Regions from separate parts of the Homo sapiens genome. Here region 2 is linked to region 1. A link means that fine-mapping ties the variant in region 1 to the expression of a gene that starts in the linked region. Tissue or cell type: whole blood. Region 1 holds a variant in brackets; the other region holds the start of a gene. All regions are shown on one strand. Distances are from middle to middle.

Region 1 (8,448 bases):
TAATAATATCTGCTTTTATTTGTAATAATTCACCCCTTTCTTTTGGTTCACTTATTCTTTTTCTGGCTTTTTCAGTTATATGTTTAAATAATTTATTTTTATTATTTAAATTTGTATTGATATAGGTATTTAATGCTATAAAGTTTCCTGTGACAGTTACTTTTTTTCTGAGTCCTATAAATTCTCTATATATTTTCCCAGCCTTTTATAGCTGTATATCTTATATGCAGTATGGTGTTTGATTTTGCTTTGTGAGCCAATCCAAGACTGTTTTCCATTTAATAGGTGAGCCAAGTCCATTTTTTACATCACAGATAACAGGGAACCACCTTGTTCTATTTTATTTGCTTTTACCCTTTTGGTATTTAAGAGGGCTTTCTTCCTCTTTTTTTTCCACTTTTATCCTAATGCCTTTATAGCAAACACTTAGTTTCTTTGGTTGGCTCCCCATAGTACCTGATACTGCAGTTAGCTGATGGACACCCCAGTCCCAGTTGGCCCCTGCACATCTTCTGCCCGCCCCTACCACTTCTCTGGTGGTTGTTCTTTGTCTGCATTGTCCAAGCTGGTAACCATGGCATGCTGCACTTTTATCACCGTCATGTGCCAGCAGCTCCACAGATAAATACAGACCACCTGCAGCTCACCTTTGCATCTGCCTCTAGTCATTTTGGTTTCCGGAGCTTATTCTTTAGTGGGTCATCCCTCAGCTCCTGGTCACCGTACTTCCTGTGTTTGTGTGTACTCATAAAAAATATGTGTGACTTTTACCCTTGATAGTCACTATTTAGATGTTAAATCTTTGGCTTATATTTTTTCCCTTAAATATCTTAAATATGTTACTGAACCTATTCTATTCTGGACCTGTAATCCCTACTACAAAGCCACTCACGAGTCCAGTTTTCATCATTTCTGATTTTACAGACATGCATTCTTAAGGGGGAGGAATTTATAGAACTGGAAGCCATGTTAATATCCTAGTCATGAGGTGGCTGAGATTTAGTCTGTCCAGGTAAGATGGTGCAGGTAGGGAGTGTGGTGGTCCAAGTGGCACGCGCAGGAAGTCACAGAATGTGGGAGGCATTGTTTTGTGTACCCTGTGCACAGAGTGTCTGATGCCCTTTGATAGGTTTGCGGCCTCATCTGGTGGACTTTCTGGCACAGCCCTTCCTCAAGGTTGCTGCATCTGAAGCTCTTTAAGACGGCGTTTCCCTTCTGCCAGATTGCACTCTGTGCACAGTGCAGTTGCTTCTCCCTGCGGAGTGAGATGGGCCCACATTGGCTGTGGCTCCACCTGGCCTTGGTGCTCTTGCCGCCCTCTGCTCTGCTGCTCCTTCATGTAATAAGGGTGTGTTAAGAGTCCGTAAGTGTGTCGTGTTAGATGTTTAGGAAGGAAATGTTAATTCTGAAAATAGGTTTCACATCTTTTTTTTAACTTATATAAAATTGACTGGACTTTCTCTTCTGGATTATCTTCTTATAATTAGAGACTAATAACACACTGATACGAAGTAGCTTTATATCAGGAAAATGGATAAACGTAAACATTTGCCTACCAGGAGAAAATAATACGACCTGATTGGAAAATGTACAGATAAAAAGCTAAGTTTAGTAGGTAGCCATTGATGAACACAGTGTGACTTAAGACAACAACTGGGGATTGTTAGAGCAGAGATTGTAGCTCCCTTCTGGGGAGGAGCTGACCAAAATGTCGTCCAGCTCCTGCTTGACAGAAGAGGTGCAGCCAAATTGATCGAAAGGAAATGTCAGAGGAGGCCAGGGTGGGAATTATCAGCAACTGTGTCTGAGGATTTGTTCCACTTTGTTTTGGTTTTGGTGAAATTATCACAGTCTGCATGTTATATGACCTTGGCACTTAGAGTCATGGCAACTTGTTGCATTTATGCGAGATTTTTTCTCCCTAAAGTCTCTTCTGTTTGATAGCATATATGTACCTTTCATAATCAATATCAAACTGAAGTAGCTTGAAAAGATAGATAATTTTATTCATTTTCTGGGATTCCATAACCACAAACTCGGTGGCTTAAAACCACAGAAATGTATGTCCTCACAATTCTGGAGGCCAGAAATCCAAAATCAAGGGCTCGGCAGGGTTGCTTCCTACTGGCAACTCAGGGAAGTTGAGTTTATGAGTATGTATTATTTTTTATTATGTGTAGTGTAGTACTTTAATAATTATTAAAAATTAAATCATTCACAAATGTTGGTCATTTTTCTTACTGGTAACAAAAGTTTTGTGACATATCTTACAGCAATATAGTTAAGAACTGATGCCCTTGATTAGCAATTTTAAAAACTGGAGGCTTATCCTAGCCTGTCTTATTTTCCTAGACTTGTGTGGAAATGATTTGAAGATGATGGCCCATAACAGCACATTTCTGTAAAGCCTGTGCTTAGAACCCTAGAGTGGTCTGGGAGATGAAGATTAAGACCTTGTTATCCATCTCTTAAGGGAAATACCATCAGAGGAAAATGCAAATCTTATTATAGGTCATCACTAGAATGAGGATTGTAATTTATAGAAATTGGGGTTTAATTATGAGAAATAGTTCCGTTCTTGGCTCTCGTTTACTTCTATTTGGAGTTGTTTTGTTGATTCTTCTCTATTCTCTTCTCTTCCTTTTCTTGAATGGAAAGGAACTTGGAAAACTCATGCCCTGTCCTTGGGCTTGTCAGAGGAAACTTGGAATGTCATTGCCTTTTGGGCACATTTGCAAGCAAGGGGGTGACATATGCTGTGGTGCAGCCTGGGTGTGGGGAGTTAAGGGCTGTTAGCTCCATCATTCAGACATGTTTTAAGTTTATGGAAACTCTGTGTTTTATACAAGTGCGTTTGTGCCCTGTGTTTTCCGCTTGTGTTGTATAACGTTCTATTCTTTGTTTTTAACACTTCCCGCCCCCACCCCATCCCTCCGACATGCACCTCAGACAGCATGAACAAGACAAGCTGCTACTTCCTCTCCTCTCTTGCACACTGTTTATCTTTAATTGCAGCAAAATACACATAACATAAAATTGCCTTCCTAACCATTTTTAAATGTACAGTTCAGTGGTGTTAAGTACATTCACATTATTGTGCAACCATTACCACCATCCTTCTCTAGAACTTTTACATCTTCCCACACTGAAACTCTGTCCCCATTAAACGCTAACTTTTCATTCTCCAGCACCCCCAGACCTGGTAACTGGCTTTCTGTTTTCTGTCTGTATGATTTGACTTTTCTGAGTACCTCACATAAGTCAAATCAGACAGTATGTGTCCTTTTGTGACTGTCTTATCTCAGCGTAACGTCCTCAAGTTTCAGCCCTATTGTAGCATGTGTCAGCATTTCCTTTTTCAGACTGAATAATATTCCATATTGTGTATAGTGTACACCACATTTTGCTTATCTATTCATCCACTGATGGACATGTGGGTTGCTTCCATGTTTATCTGTTGCAAGTAATACTGCTATGAATGTGGGTATACAAGTATCTTTCATTCTCTGCTTTCAGTTCTTTTGAATATATACCCAGAAGTGGAATTGCTGGATCATATGGTAATTCTGTGTTTAATTTTTTGAAGAACCTCCATACTGTTTCCTATAGTAGCTATACCATCCTCCATTTCCACCAACATTGCACGAAGGATCCAGTTTCCCCACATCCATGTCAATACTTGTTAAACTTTCTTTTTTTTTTTTTAATTTGCCAGTAGCCTCATAATGAGCGTGAGGTAGTATCTCATTGTAGTGTTAATTTGCATTTACCTAACAATTCGTGATGTGGAGCATCTTTTCATGGGCTTGTTGGCTGCTGTGTCTCTTCTTTGGAGAAGTGTCTGTTGAAGTTGTTTGACATTTTTTAATCAAGTTGTTGGACAGGTTCCCTTGTTTTTAAGTCAGAGTAGGTGATGTTTGTCTTGAAGGTTATAAAAAGAGAACATGTTTGCTATGACATGTAGTTGATTGCTATGAAATGTAGTTGACACATGCAGAATAGAAAGATTTATAAATTAAATACTCCTTTATTAACATTTTAATGTGTCAAATTTAAATTTCAGAAGCATTCATCTTTCTTCTCTACTTGTACATTTTTGTTTACCTGACAGTGTAAAACCCACAACCAAAAAATAATGGCTTTTTCCCCATTTAAAATACTTTGTAAAAATAGTAGCCTAGTTGTCATTTGTGAGCCCAGGCTTGGTCCTCAAGTCTGACATAGACTCCCCAAGGCCCTAACGCTGAAGTTCTCTGAGCCCTACCACTGCCCAGGCAGGCCCAGGAAGTGTCCCAGCAGTGCCCAAGAAGGTCACCTCCACCTGTGGAATCCACAGTGTGGGTAGCCCCCAGGGAGCCACAGCCATGTAGACCCAGATTCACAGGAGGATGCGGTTACTGCAAGCATCTGAACCTGGCCCCACCACCTATGGGCAGAGTTGGTTCCAGCTCAGTGTGTCCATGGGATGTCTTTAGGTTCACCTTGCTTTTCTGTCCCACGCTCACATGTTGGAGCTAAGCTGCATGGAGTGTCGTTCTCCCTGTACATATGAGATTA[GTCAGCAATCCT/T]GTCTCCTTCCATATTCTGTCTTTATTTCTGCGACACTATTTCTGGAGAACATTGTATTTGTGCTTTTCCTTTGATATGTTTGTAATTTTCGTTAGAAAACCCTTTTAGATTCTAAAGCTTCTACATTCAGTATTTCAATCAATGATAACAAACTGGTGTAAGACTAAATATAAAATACAAACACATTTCCATAAATCAACACATTTCCATAAATTGCTGTTATAATGTCTGCCACAAAAAGTTCAGTTGTTTGTATGTTTTTCAAATGTGCTTTGCTTGTCTTGATGATTTACAACTGTTGGCACTGCTGTTTAAGTCTGTTCTGACAGTGAGAAAGTGACTCATTTGGCAAAGTCAGCTGTTTTTTACTAAAAGTGAATAGTGGTGAGTGGAAAGGGGCTTGTATACAATTTTCTTGTCAAAGAACGATGACCGGCAAATAAGCAATTTTAGTTCCTTGGATTTGAGCACCACTCTTGCATGCCTCCACCAACCAGCTTGTCTCCACAGAGCTTCCTTCCTCACTTTACACTGAAAATCTGTTATCAGTGTGTGGAAAATAAAAATTTTACACATCTTTAGTTTTGAGGATGTGGATTACTATTTACAGGTTTTTTTTTTCTGTAAGGAAGACATTTTTTTAAAAAGTAAAAGGTGTTCCCATTGTTTAGTTATTGCCTTATGATTTGATTTTCTTGTTTCACAAAGAACAGCTTTTAATTAAACGTATTTAAATAGTAAAAATATACATGTCACTTCACCTGGTTCCAGTTAAATGTGTTAACAGTGTATGTGGTTGGTGCTTAATAAAAACATGTTCAGTGCAGTAATAATTAACTTCAGTTAAACCCTTAAACATATAGGGAGTAAACAGAAATGTTGAGTGGTTACTCAGCATGGGGTAAGGGACACATCAAGTCATTGGTCAGTATTGGGTATCATCATGTTCTTACCATCTTTTTTCTGGAGTTTTAATAGTTGTTTTTTAAAAAAATCTCTGTTTTAATAAGCCATTTTGATGTTTGAAACTACCTTGGATAAGCATATCAAGACCCTTCAGAGATTCTAAAACATGTTCAGCACTTTCTGGTACAATATTCTCAAAGAACCAGGATACATCTTATTTCTCAAAATGAAACAAAAATGTATTAGACATTACCCCTGTGATTTCAAGCCCACAGTCTGTCACTTTGAAGTATTTGTATCCTTTTACAAAAGAAAAGCCAAATGAAGATCTCCCTGAAAAAATATTTTAATAGAATATGTCTTTATTTCAGTATCTTAAATAGTGAAGATGGAGAAATAGTCAATAATGAAGAGCATGAATATGCATCCAAAAAAAGGAAAAAGGACCATTTTAGAAATGACACAAATACTCAAAGTAAGATCATTCTCATTAATTTTATTTTACTTGTTGATTATGTTGAAATACTAAATTACTCTGACAATGCTATCTTATGAAATAAAAGGTGATACAAATATGTAAATAACAGCCCAGTATCCAGCATTGCCTACATATTTAGTGATCAAACTTTTTGCAGCCCAACGTTTCAGTGGGTAAGATGTGCAAAAACAAAATAAGAGATAGCAAAACCCACAAAACAGCCCATGAATCTGAATGCTTGAATTATGGTCATGAATTCAGCTCAATCTTGAGCAGTGAGGCCAAACTGAGAGGTGTCCTGACTTGAGTTTCGAAGTCACTGAAGATTCAGAGCAGGAGACAGACATTCAGAGCTGGAGTTTAGGATGTTAGATGGCAGCAGGGGAAGGCTGGAGGTGGGACCTATCTGTGAGAGGGCATAGCGTTCTATCATGCAGCATATCTGTGAGTTACCAAGACACATGTTAATGTATAGTAGGCTTCCTTACCTCAGGGGATAGACCTCCAGTGGATGCCTGAAACTGTGGATACTACCAAACCTTATGGATACTATGTTTTTTTTTCTGTATATACACACTTATAATAAAGTTTAATTTATAAATTAGGTGCAGTAAGAGATTAACGAGAATAATAATAAAATGAAACAGTTATAGCAAGATGGCCACCATCACTGCTCTTGCACTTTGGGGCTATTATGAAGTGCAATAAGGGTTCTTTAAACACAAGCACTGTGATATCTCAACAGGTGATCCGATAACCAAGACGGCTACTGAGTGACCAAGGGGCGGGTAGTGTAGGACTCGCTTGACAAAGGGAGGATTTGCATCCCAGGCAGGACAGAGCAGGACGGTGTGAGATTTCATGACACCACCCAGAATGGCACACAATTTAAAACTTATGAATGGTTTATTTCTGGAATTTTCCACTTAATGTTTTCAAACCAAAGCTGACTGTGGGTAATTGAAACTGTAGAAGATGAAACTGTGAATACGGGGGGACTACTTTATGAAGAAGATAGGGTCACATGGAGAATACAGTTAGTGTGATTCTTGAAACTTTTAAGATTTATCTGAAAAATTTGTTTCTATGGAGTACTATACACAGCAACAGAAGAATAGAACTTTTTATTAGGGTACATAGGAATGTAGTAATGTAATTGCATTTTATAATCATTTATGTCTTCATATGGCTTCAGTCATTAATAATACTAATTTTCTTCTAAGTTACTAGGACTTGGTACTGTCTGAAATCATTGTTCATATCTTAAACTGATTTAAGAAACAAAGCAATTCTGTTTGCATTCAACCAAGTAAAAGCATTTCTTGTCAATATAGTAAGTCAGATAATTTTGTTAATATGTCCAATTATTTAAATTCCTTTAAAATCTTCATTTTGAAATGATTTGCCAGATTTTAAAAACAAAGGTAATTTTTATTCTAGGTTTTTATCATGAAAAATGGATCTATGTCCATAAAGAAAGCACAAAAGAAGTAAGTATTCTATTATAAATAAGAGAGTATCTTGGATTGTTTCTGTTGAATATGGAGTCACATTAAATAAATGTATTAATAAAGTTGCATAAAACACATTTCTTTTGCAATATCAGATCTATGGTTCACATTCTGACAGATAATAGCATATGAGGAGCTTTTGAGGCAGTGATTCTCCATTGTGTGTGCTTGCATGTGCATGTGGTATGTGGCTGTGTATTTGTGCACACATTGGTGTGTGTTGTGTGTATGGTGTATGTGTGTTGTATGTATGGTGTGTATGTATGGTTGTGCATGTATTTATGCACACATTGGTCTGTGGGATGTATGGTGTGTGGTGGCATGTGGTATATGTGTACAGTGTGTGGTTCCTGCCTACCTGTACATATCTGAGTCAACAGCAGGGCTATTTAAACCAAGCATGGACTCCTGCAGTCATACGCATTTTCTCTGTGTTAGCATGAACCCCTGATGCTGATGGGAATGTGTCCTCCCTGTGGCGTGTTTTGGAGGGCAGGGCATCTGTGAGCCCTCTCATTCCACATAAAGAGTGGCTAACATGAAATTAGTAATTGGGTTGGGTTTGTGCAGAGCCATATGAACTCTTTCCCTGCCTTTCTTTTGCCAAGTTGGGCTAAAGCTTTTTCATGAGCCATAAAACAAACCAGAGAGCTTCAAGCTGTTTCCTGTTTCTTTACTAGGATCCGGGAAGTTGAGTTCCTTTTATAGTCCTAGAAACTCTGCATTTGCTTTATTTTGCAACAACTGGGGAAAATAATTTAGGGAATTACTGTCTATCGTCTGTTATTTCAGGGTAAGTTAAATATTCCAGAAATGTTTGTAGATGCTCTGAAACTAGTCCAGCTTCCAAGAAACTGAAGGATTAGATTCTGAGAAAGAAAACTTAATCTGTTTGGTTATGGTTAGTGGGTATAGAATGAATCAGATCCTTAATATACACTCGAATACACCATTAGACGATTATTTGACAGAATCTAACCTAGT
Region 2 (6,014 bases), 150 kb before region 1:
AGGCCGCGCTGGCGCATGCGGCTCATGGCCACGAAGGCATCGTGGTAGTGCCGCTTGGAGTTGTGGGCCACGCTGTGGCCCTCGCGGCTCAGCAGCTGCACGGCTCCCTCCATGGGGGCTGCGGGCCGAGCCTGCCGGGGCCGCGTGCGCTCTGCCTCGGGGCTGCAGGAGGCGGGCGGGTCAGGCTTCGCCCCGCTGGAGCCGCCCGCCCGCCCTGGAGCCGCTGGGGGGCCCGGGCAGCCCGCGGGGACCCAGCCCCTGGTGCGACGGGGGCGCCGGCAGCCCTCGCCTGACCTCCGCCAAGGACCCCCGCCCCGGAGCGCGCCGTGTCCAGGCCTCCGCTGCGCCCCTGCTCCCCTGGGGCGTAGTCAGAGCCGCGAACAGAGCCCCGCGTCCGGCCCCGCTTCCCGGCGCCCCCACGAGCTCAGCTCCTCCGCGTCCCTAGCCGCCCTCTCGGGACCGCAGCGGGAGTCGCGTCCTGGGCGCGCGGGGCGCGGGTGGGGAACCTACTCCGGGCCGACCCCGCTCCGCACCTGAGTCCCGACCTCCCCCGGCCCTCGGAAGCGGCCCCCGCCCCTTCTGCGAGCGGACGCGAGGGCGGGGGCCGCGCAGGTCCCGAGGCCGCCCCCCGCGCCCCGACCCCCGCCCACTCACGCCGGCGGCTGCGGCGGTGGAGGCGGCGGCGCCTCGGGCCCGGGCCCCGGGCTGCCGTGCTCCGGGCTCTGCGTCCTGCCGGCCGGGCGCTCGCTGCGGGGCTGCATTCGGCTGCCGGACCCACCGCCGATTCGCGGAGGACCCGCGGGCTTAACGGACGCGGAGACTGCCGGAGGGCTGCTCGGCGGTGGCGGCCCGCTCTGTGTCGCTCACTCCCGCCGCTCCCGCCCGCAGCCGCTGTTTCTCGGCGCCGCCCGCCCCGCCTCCCGAGAGGCTTCGGGGACTAGACGTTGGACGCGGATTCTTCCAGCGCTGCGCCCCGGGTCCGCCTCCTCCTCCGAGAAGCACCCCCAGACCCCGCCATCCTCCTCCTCCGGGAAGCCCCCCACCAGGCCTCGCCCTCCTCCTCCTCCGAGAAGCCCCCCTAGGCCTCGCCATCTTCCTTCTCCGAGAAGCCCCCCAGGCCCCGCCATCCTCCTCCTCTGGGAAGCCCCCGGCCTAGCCCTCCTCCTCCTCCTCCTCCGGGAAGCCCCCCTAGGTCTCGCCTTCCTTCTTCCCCGGGAAGCCCCCCACAGGCCTCGCCCTCCTGTTTCTCCGAAGAGCCCTCCTAAGCCTCGCCCTCCTCCTCCTCCAAGGAGCCCCCCTAAGCCTCGCCCTCTTCCTCCTCCGAGGAGCCCCCCAGGCCTCGCCCTCCTCCTCCCCCGGAAGCCATCCCCGCTCCCCCGACCCCCTAACTTGCTCTCCTCCGGGGAGCCCCGGGGCCCCGCGGCACCAAGAAGTCGAATGGGACCCCGAGGCCAATCCGCCCGTGTTCGCCTCACGCGCCCCCTCAGCGCCAGGGCTGGGGGAGCCGTGCCTGCGCCCCGCGGCGCCCTTGTCGCGGGGTCTGGCTGTCCAGGCCCGGGGGCCCGGGTGTCAGGCTGGTAGCGGGAAGGAAGGCGCCGGCCTCCCCACCGTCTTCGTCCCGTGCGGCGTCCCCGGGAAGAGCCGCGGTCGGCACCCAGAGGGCCATGGACGGGGAGCGCCCTGCGTGGTGTTCGTGGCGCTGGCCCGGTCTCCGCGGATCGGAGGCGAAGCCAGCCTGGCCCTCGGGTCGCCCGTCTTTTGTCGAGCTGGCGACATCAGTGCGGTTCCCACTGCCCCTCGCGTTTTCCACTGGACTCCCTGCTTTTTATTGTTGATTTGTGGGAGCTCTTTGCATAGGAGCCCCGCCGTTGCAGTCTGGCGTCCTCGCAGGCGCGTGCCTTCGGAGCGCCGGGTGGGCTGCGGGCGCGGCGGGACTCCCGGTCTTCCCCGGGGCGGACACCGGCGTCACCGCGTCCTACGGAGCCGGGCGCCGAGCGGGAGGCGCATCTGGGCCCCACCGGGGCTGCCCGCACCGAGCACGCGAACGCGCCCTCCCGCCCTGAGGCCGCCGGCGTTGCGGTCGGAGAACCATAGAGCCACTCGGCTGGGCGTGGCGCGGCGGGGCGGGGAAAGGGGCGGGGCCTGGGCGGCGGAAGTGCGCAGCCGCGCGGCATTCTGGGGCCGGAAGTGGGGTGCACGCTTCGGGTTGGTGTCATGGCAGCTGCGGGGAGCCGCAAGAGGTAAGCCGCGGGTCCGAGGGCCGATTTGGCCTCCCGGTGGGTGTCTGTATCCAAGGGGGCTTTTCTTGCTCCTCTCAGCGGGGCTGGGGCGAGCTGGGCGTGCGGGCAGCTGTGACTCCTGCGTGACCCGCAGGCGCCTGGCGGAGCTGACGGTGGACGAGTTCCTAGCTTCGGGCTTTGACTCCGAGTCCGAATCCGAGTCCGAAAATTCTCCACAAGCGGAGACACGGGAAGCACGCGAGGCTGCCCGGAGTCCGGATAAGCCGGGCGGGAGCCCCTCGGCCAGGTTAGTGGGGACATGCGTGAGCAGAACCTCTTGCTCGTCCTGTCCCACCCCGGTTGGGTTGCTGACCTCGCCTGGGGTCTCAGGGCCAAGGCCTAAGGATCGCCGACCTCTGCCCCCCAGTCCTTTCAGCTTAACTTACTCTTTCATCCGATGTTTACTGAGCTCCTGTTCCGTGCCAAACTCTGTCCTAGGCAGGGAGCGTATGTTGGTGAGTTGTGCAAAAATCTCTTCCCGATCTAGGAGAACTCTCACGTTCTTGGGTGAAATCACCGCCTGCAGTTCGGTAGAAGAGAGATAAGTGCTGGGGAGGGAAAGGAAGGACAGAGGGGCTGAAGAGAGAGTTGCAGGGGAGCCGAGTTGCTCTGTTAGAAGGAGCGGAGGCTGTGCTCGGTGGCTCACGCCTGTAATGCCAGCACTTTGGGAGGCCGAGGCGGGCAGATTACCTGAGGTCAGGAATTCGAGACCAGCCTGACCAACACGGAAAAATCATGTCTCTACTAAAAATATAAAAATTAGCCGGGCGTGGTGGGCACCTGTAATCCCAACTACTCGGGAGGCTGAGGCAGGAGAATCGCTTGAACTTGGGAGGCGGAGGTTGCAGTGAGCCGAGATGGCACCATTGCATTCCAGCCTGGGTGAGAGAGTGAGACTCCATCTCAAAAAGAAAAAGAAAGAAATCAAAAGATACAAAAATTAGCCTGGCGTGGTGACACACACCTGTCGTCCCAGCTACTCGGGAGGCTGAGGCAGGAGAATCGCTTGAACCCGGGAGGCGGAGGTTGCGGTGAGTGGAGATTGCGCCACTGCACTCCAGCCTGGGCGACAGAGTGAGATTCCGCCTCAGGAGAAAAAAAAAAAAAAAAAAAAGCGGAGGTGGTTGTTTGAGAAGATGACGTCTGAATAAAGACCTCGAACAAGGAGGCCACACAGACAGTAGGGGAAACGTGTCTTAGGATTTCAGGCAGCAGAAAACAGCAAAAGCCTTGCAGTGGGAGCATTTGGGGAGAGTACAGAGGTAAACGTGGCTACGGCAGGAGTGAGGGGGTGAATAGGGGTAGATGAGCCCAGAAGGGTGATGAAGAGCCAGGTGCCGTAGACCGTCATAAGATTGCCTCGTAAAACAGGGAGTTACTTCTGGGTTTGAGCGGTGGAGTGCCTTGTAGGTGACAAGGGTGGAAACAGAGAGACCTTTAGGTTAACTGAGAATTGAACTATGTGGTGGTTTGAGAGGAGGCACGAACGGTTTTGAAGGTGTTGCTGATGAGATCTGATGACAAGTTGCGTGCTGGGTATTAGAGACAGAGATTTGCCTTTAGTCTGAGCCTCTGGAAGGGTGAAGCCACCATCAGGCAAAAGTAGCGCAGGGCACAGGCACAGCAAGTCCAGGGAAGACCGCGGCTGGGGGCCTGTGTAGCGCAGGGCGCAGGCACAGCAAGTCCAGGGAAGACCGCGGCTGGGGGGCCTGTGTAGTGTGTTTGAGGGTATGTTGTAGAGGTTGTTGGGTAGGAGACGTGAGTCTGCCAAAAACGTACCTCCTGGCAATCCTGTCTTGCTAGTTGGTAACCCTTGTGAAGGGAGTAGACTGACCCTGTAGGCCACTCCCCGCCCCCTCTACTTCCACTTCCCACTGGGGTCGCTGACTTCTGCCTCCTCAGCCGGCGTAAAGGCCGTGCCTCTGAGCACAAAGACCAGCTCTCTCGGCTGAAGGACAGAGACCCCGAGTTCTACAAGTTCCTGCAGGAGAATGACCAGAGCCTGCTAAACTTCAGCGACTCGGACAGCTCTGAGGAGGAAGAGGGGCCGTTCCACTCCCTGCCAGATGTGCTGGAGGTGAGGGCGTGGGCCAAACCAGAAGGGGGGCACTTGTCTCTACACTCTCCTTCAGCTCAGCCTTTCTGTGCAGGAAGCCAGTGAGGAGGAGGATGGAGCGGAGGAAGGAGAAGATGGGGACAGAGTCCCCAGAGGGCTGAAGGGGAAGAAGAATTCTGTTCCTGTGACCGTCGCCATGGTTGAGAGATGGAAGCAGGCAGCAAAGGTGAGCAGCAGCCAGGGGCGGGCAGCTGGGTGCCCAGGCAGAAATCTGGCCTTGCCTCACCTGAGGTGAGCAGCAGCGAGGGGCGGGCAGCTGGGTGCCCAGGCAGAGATCTGGCCTTGCCTCACCTGAGGCGCCTGAGGCTGTGCTGGTGGGAGGGGCTGTTCTCCACGCAGGGGACGCTTGGAGCCTTCTTCAGCGCAAGTGACAACACGTTGCTCCTCCTGCTTGCTTGGTTGCCCCAGGACTGTGTGTTCACTTTTGGGTAGATTCCAGGGGCTCTGTTGGCGCCCCACTCCCCAAAGTCAGTCCCGCTGTGGGTGGGACGGACTGTGCCTTTGTTGGTTGGTGGAGCTGGGGTCCTTCTGAGCCTCTCACAGTGTTTTTTTCCAGGGACAAGGATACGGAGAGCTCCAGATACCACCTGGAGGTGGCCATAGTCCAGGATCTGGAACTCCCAGTCCTTTTCCTGGGGCTCCTGAGCCAGACTCCCTCCTCTTCCCAGAGAATTCTAGACTTTGTTTCCATTTTTGTTATCAGTATGGGGCTCTGTGCCTCCCCCCAACCTCTGCCCTATGTCTGAGGGTGAGGGTGAGGGTGCCTTTCTCTGGGGCTGCCGTTTCCACTCTGCCAAGTGCAGTCTCAGCTCCCCTGACGCCCCTGGTACTCTTGCTCCTTCAGCAACGCCTCACTCCAAAGCTGTTCCATGAAGTGGTACAGGCGTTCCGAGCAGCTGTGGCCACCACCCGAGGGGACCAGGAAAGTGCTGAGGCCAACAAATTCCAGGTCACGGACAGTGCTGGTGAGCTTGGGGGGAGCCTGGCATCCAGGCTGTCTGTTGCGTTCTCTGTCCCGTGAGTACATCCAGGCCTTTTCGTTGCAGCATTCAATGCTCTGGTTACCTTCTGCATCAGAGACCTCATTGGCTGTCTCCAGAAGCTGCTGTTTGGAAAGGTGGCAAAGGATAGCAGCAGGTAAGAGGGGAGGGGGTGAAGGGGGGTAGGGTGGAAGGTGGGTCGGGACCACACACAGGAGAAGCCAGAGGCCTTGTGGCTAGGACAGAGACATGGCAACAGAGCCAGCGTCTTCTTGGGGACCCTGAGAAGGCAGCGGGGCACGAGGGACCGTTGGGAGAGGCTGGGCACTTGGGGCCAGTTGGAGCGGCCCCACCTTCTTTCCTTCCTGAAAAGGGAAGTTGTCTGCTCAGAGTCTCAGAAGGTGTGGCGTGTGCAGCTGCCTTTGCTCTCAGATTTTCCCAGGTTAGGGTTCTTGCTCTATTTCCCTTTGTAAGAACTTGTAAGTCCTGTCCATACTCCTTGATCTCTGCACTATGACTGGCCTGTTTCCTGGAGCTGTGTGTGTCTGTAGACAGGGGCCTCATCAATGCTGAGAACCTGAGGGCCTCAACTTCCCCTTTAGAGAAAGATTGGGCAGAGAAGGCCGTGGAAGGTTTTCA

Evidence for each region. PIP is the estimated chance that this variant, and not a neighbour inherited with it, causes the effect.
Region 2: NOC2L starts here. The variant in region 1 is fine-mapped to the expression of NOC2L in whole blood (INTERVAL, PIP 0.94).

Annotation. Positions count from the first base shown.
Region 1 is chr1:807,569-816,016 of GRCh38, reverse strand. It overlaps LINC01409 (long intergenic non-protein coding RNA 1409), which reads right to left. Exons shown (of 6, transcript NR_187359.1): 6 at 5,952-6,359. Among named protein-coding and RNA genes, the nearest start is that of FAM87B, 5.6 kb to the left of the region's middle. The variant GTCAGCAATCCT/T (reference allele first, on the strand shown) is at 4,558.
Region 2 is chr1:955,441-961,454 of GRCh38, reverse strand. NOC2L (NOC2 like nucleolar associated transcriptional repressor) reads left to right here and starts at 2,199. Exons shown (of 19, transcript NM_015658.4): 1 at 2,199-2,240; 2 at 2,374-2,526; 3 at 4,182-4,356; 4 at 4,430-4,561; 5 at 5,240-5,360; 6 at 5,442-5,532. The coding sequence starts at 2,215. KLHL17 (kelch like family member 17) reads right to left here and starts at 871. Exons shown (of 12, transcript NM_198317.3): 1 at 655-871; 2 at 1-162. The coding sequence starts at 761. RefSeq lists silencers at 318-647, 668-977, 1,936-2,195 and enhancers at 2,306-2,415, 2,074-2,931.